2 separate regions of the Homo sapiens genome follow, and region 2 is linked to region 1. The links come from fine-mapping of genetic effects on gene expression. Tissue or cell type: whole blood. Region 1 holds a variant in brackets; the other region holds the start of a gene. All regions are shown on one strand. Distances are between the middles of the regions.

Region 1 (2,683 bases):
AATCATTTATAATATTATTGTCTTAATATTTTCTTTACATACATTGAGAATCACATCAGACAGTGTTACAATTTTTACTTTAACTATTAAATGTAATTTAGAAAATTCAGTTAGAGGTGTGAAGATCCTCTGGAAAAAAAGGGAAAGAAAACTCAAGAAGAAAAAGAAAACCCCTTCCTCTCCCCTCTCCCCTTTTTCTGTCCTCTCCTCCCTCCCTCTTTCTCCTTTTCTTTTCTTCCTTCTCTATCTTTCTTTTCTCCTGATGTTCCAGATTCCCTTCTTTTACCATTCTTTTCTGTTTTAATAACTCCCTTTCTCTATTCTTTTAGGGTAGGTCTGCTGGCAACAAATTCTCTTAGTTTTCCTTCATCTGAGAATGTGTTGGTTTTTCCTGAATTCTTTTTTATTTTATTTTTAAAAATTTGTTTATTTTAATTTTTATGGGTACATAGTAGGTGTATATATTTATGGGGTACATGAGATGTTTCGATACAGGCATGCAATGTGGAATAATCACATCATAGAGAACGGGGTGCTCATTCCCTTAAGCATTTATCATTTGTATTACAAACAATCCAGTTACTCTTGGATCCAATTTACAATTAGATCCAATTTCCAATCCAAATGCAATTACAATTCAATAACTCTTTTAGTTATTTTATTTTATTTTATTTATTTTTTGAGATGGAGTCTTGCTCTGTTACCCAGGCTGGAGTGCAGTGGCGCAATCTTGGCTCACTGCACTTCCGCCTCCTGGGTTCAGGCAATTCTCCTGCCTCAGCCTCCAAGCCTGCCTAATTTTTGTGTTTTTAGTAGAGATGGGGTTTTGCCATGTTGGCCAGGCTGGTCTCGAACTCCTGACCGCAAGTGATCTGTCCGCCTCAGCCTCTCAAAGTGCTGGGATTATAGGAGTGAGTCACCCCACCCGGCCTCTTTTAATTATTTTAAAATGTACATCTCTCTCATTCTTGAATGGTTATATACATAATATATACATATAATTGTATATACATTTATATACATATATACATATTTTATATGTATACCTATAAATGTATATACATTTATATACATATATACATATTTTATATGTATACCTATAAATGTATATACATTTATATACATATATACATATTTTATATGTATACCTATAAATGTATATACATTTATATACATATATACATATTTTATATGTATACATATAAATGTACATCTTTTTCATTCGCTGGTTATAGAATCCTGGGTTGACAGTTCTTTAGAACTTATAAAATGTTATGCTTCTTTCTTCTGGCTTTCATAGTTTCTGATGAGAAATCTACTTTCATTGAAATTGTTTTCTTCCTATGGGTAAGGTATCATTTGTCTTTCACTGCTTTCAAGATTTTAAATTCATCTTTAGCTTTCAACAGTTTGATTATGATATGCCCTGGCATAGATTCATTTGGGTTTATTCTGTTTGGGTGTATTAGTTTTTTTTTT[TA/A]TTATTTATTGCTGCCTAACAAAATTATCACAAATTTGGAGGCTTAAAATAACATTTATTTTACTATTATTTCTTAATATATCAACTATTTACAATCATAAAGGTATATCACAAGATCAGTTATTACATCAAACATGTATTTTCCATCTACACTCTGTCCTGTAGATGAGAGCCCAAATGAGATTTTCACTGAAACATTTATTTTTTGTTTTTTTTTGTTATTTTTTCTTGTTGGTCTTTAATGAAGGCTAGGCATAAACTGAATTGACTTTCATGCAGTTGCTTTTCATTTTTCATTTTTCATTTTTTTTTTTGAGACAGAGTCTCAATCTACTGCCCAGGCTGGAGTGCAGTGGCATGATCTCGGCTCACTGCAGCCTTTGCCTCCTGGGTTCAAGCGACTCTTCTGCCTCAGCCTCCCCTGTAGCTGGGATTACAGGCATGAGCCACTGTGCCTGGCTAATTTTTGTATTTTTTAGTAGAGATGGGATTTCGCCATGTTGGCCAGCTTGGTCTCGAACTCCTGACCTCAGGTGATCCGCCCACCTCTGCCTCTCAATGTGCTGGGATTACAGGCATGAGCCATCGCGCCTTGCCATGATTTTTATTTTTCATTAGTGCTCATGGTATATGCTGCCCAGTGAGTTGTACCAACTACATTATTGTAACATCTGAATCAACTGTGGGCTACATTGTTTGATCAAGATTGATAGATTGCTTTATTTATTTATTCTTCTTTTACAACTATAGCCTACAGATAAACAACCATTATTACAGAGATTAAACTTGATTATGCTACATATCATATTACATGAATCACTCTGTGTCTACAAAGGCAAATTGACTGGATAAAATTCATTAAGGTGTAATGCCAAATAATTGCTTTATCATGATACAATACAATACTTATGTCTCACTTCCTTTTTTTTTTTTGAGATAGAGTCTTGCTCTGTCGCTCAGGCTGGAGTGCAGTGGCAGGATCTCTGCTCACTACAACCTCCGCCTCCCGGGTTCAAGCAATTTTCTTGCCTCAGCCTACTGAGTAGCTGGGATTACAGGCACACACCACCATGCCTGACTGATTTTTTTATTTTTAGTAGAGACGGGTTTCACTATATTGGCCAGGCTGGTCTCGAACTCCTGACCTTGTGATCTACCCACCTTACCCGCCTTGACCTCTCAAAGTGCTGGGATTACAGGCGT
Region 2 (2,683 bases), 250 kb before region 1:
CTTGCAAAAGGATAAGGTTGAGGCCCAGGATCTTGGGAAGCTGGGCACCTGGACTCCTGGGATCAGAGGGAAGAGGAGGCTGGGGCCTGGTGGAGTAGTTATTGTAGAAAAACCACCACCCTCCCTCACCCTCTGGGCTGGCATCCTGGCATCAGCTCTCAGTGCTTCTTAGAAACTCCCTTCCCTTCTCTGCTCAATCTGGCCCAGCCCTACCCCTGGGGACCCACTGTTGACCATGAGTGTGCCAGGGGCCTGGATTCCCAAGCGCTCACCTCTGGCCCCAGCCTGTCCCCAGGGAGGGGTGACGGGGTCCAGGCTGGTGCCTAAGGCTGGGTCTGATCTGCAGACAAGTGGAGGCAGAGAGTTCCTCTCTCTTCCCCAATCTCTCTCATCTCTCTGTCCCTCTGTCCCCAGCACCCCCACCCCCACCCCCCAGCCCCCGGCCTCCTCTCCTTCTATCCTCATGCAGGTGTGTAAATGTAGCTGAGGCCCCAGGAAGGGGGCCTGTCACTTGGAAACACTTTGTTCCACTGTCACTGCCCGGGGCTGGTGCTCCAGCCCTTTCCTGAGGGAGGCGGGTTCTTTATACTGGACTCTGGAAACTCCTAAATACATGTGGATCGCTGGTGTGGGGACACATGGTCCTCGCTTCTCTAAGGGGTCCCTGGACCTCTCAAAACTTGAGGACCTTTGAGGGAGAGAGCCCTGGGGTTTTGATCCTCTGTGCCCTGGGGGAAGCTATTCTAGCCACTGGAGGCCTGGACTCCTGGGTCTGAGGAAAGAGGGGCTGGGGGCCCAGATTCCAGGGTCTGAGGGAGGAGGCAGGTGGGACCCAGATTCCAGGGTGCTGAGTGGGAAGGGGGCTGACTTCTCTGGTTGTCTCTGATCCACCGCCTGGGTATCCCCAGCTCTCCTGCCTGGCTGTCCCCAGATCTCTCTCACTGGAAGGCGTACCTTCCAACACTCCCATATCCCTCCTCCTTGGGGTCCCCACATTTTGCTTCCTGGGGTCAGGGTAAAGCCCTTTCTCCTCGCTTTCCCGGGGTCCCCAGGGGCCTCTCCCCAGTCCCACCTTGCCCTCAGCCCGAGCCATACCTGGGTGCGCCGCCAGCAGGACTGCGAGCAACAGCAGCCGCGGGGCCCCGCGCGCCTGGGCCGGTGCGTCCGGGGGCTCCATGTTCACGGCGGCGGCGGAGACTGAGCCCGGGCTGCAGCTCGGCCGCTGCGGGGCTGGGAGCCAGAGGCCCCGCCCCCGGCAGCCCCGCCCCGCCCCGCCCTCCAGGCCCCCCTCGTCCCCCGATGCCCGGGCGCGGGGCCAGGACCTCCCACTGCCCGGAGCGGACCTCCCAGTGCACGGGGCCAGGCTCGGGGCTCGTCCGCCCCCAAGCCTAGAGCTGTCCGGGCTTACTGACCAGCGCCTGCAGCGGGGGGCCTGATCGACCAGCGTAGCCAGTGACCCGAGCTGGGATCTCACCAGGCAATCGCGGACCTTCTCCTCGTTATTCTGACCAGGGGCCTTGGGGACTCGTCCCCACTGTGACCAGCAGCCTGGGCTGGCATCGTCGATTTTAACCAGAGGACCCCACTGCAACCTGTGGCCTGCGATGGCCTCTCCCAGTGTAACTAATGGCCCCAAGCGTGCCGTCCGAGTGGCCTGCACTGGCCTCTCCCAGTCCAACCAGTGACCCCCGCAGCCTGACCAGTGGCCCCCAGCAGCTGCTCCCAGTATGCCCGGAGATGTTTTCCCCTGTGGTCAGTGCTCTGGGCTGCTTTCCTCGTCTGACCAGTAGCCTGGAATCAACCGGTTTAATCTCTTATTTTCAATGGTCTTCAAATCCAGGTCCTCCTAGGCCGCTTCGATGATGGGGCTGGGGGTGGGGTACGGGGTGCCCTCTCTGCTTGCTCACCCATGGAAGGCCCTCCCACTCTTCCCCCTATCCAGGGAATCCCAGGAATGCCACCCTCCCTTCCTCCTTCCCGCTCTCTCCTTCATTCCCTCCCAACCTTGTGGGGAAGGGAGGAGTCAGACTGGCCAGAGCAGGTGAGGAGGGCAGGGGAAGAGGCCAGGGCACCTGCGGGAAGGGGGAGGAGTCCAGCCACTGCTAGGAAGCGTGGGTCACAGGTCCGACTGCCCAAGGCCCCTACAGGCCAGGTCAGACTGGGACAAAATCCCCCACTAGATGTCACTAGTTGCCCAGGACAGTGGTCAGAACGTGGGAGGGTGGGGGGTCGCTGGCCACACTGGGAGAGGTTACCCAAGCTTCTGATCAGCCTGGGGGTTGAGGTAGCCCTGGAGCTGGGCTTTGCCTGCTCAGACATACAGAGAAGGCTTGGATTACAGGTCAGCCTGGGAGTTATTAGACTGGTCAAGGTTACTTTATCCATTGGTCATACAGGAGACCAACGTTTTTTTTGTTTGTTTGTTTTGTTTTTGACAGGGTCTCGCTCTGTTGCCCAGCCGGGAATGCAGTGGGCGCAATCATAGCTCATTCAAACCTCAACCGCCTGGGCTCAAGCAATCCTTCCACTTCAGCCTCCCAAGTAGCTGGGACTATAGGCTTGTGTTACCATGTCCAGCTAATTTTTGTATTTTTTTGGTAATAGAAACAGGGTATTACTATGTTGCCCAGGCTGGTCTCCAACTCTTGGGCTCAAGTGATCCTCCTGCCTTCCAAAGTGCTGG

The links. PIP is the estimated chance that this variant, and not a neighbour inherited with it, causes the effect.
Region 2: BCAM starts here. The variant in region 1 is fine-mapped to the expression of BCAM in whole blood (INTERVAL, PIP 0.90).

The regions. Positions count from the first base shown.
Region 1 is chr19:44,557,684-44,560,366 of GRCh38, reverse strand. No RefSeq gene overlaps it. Among named protein-coding and RNA genes, the nearest start is that of CEACAM20, 29 kb to the right of the region's middle. The variant TA/A (reference allele first, on the strand shown) is at 1,480.
Region 2 is chr19:44,807,619-44,810,301 of GRCh38, reverse strand. BCAM (basal cell adhesion molecule (Lutheran blood group)) reads right to left here and starts at 1,199. Exons shown (of 15, transcript NM_005581.5): 1 at 1,096-1,199. The coding sequence starts at 1,177.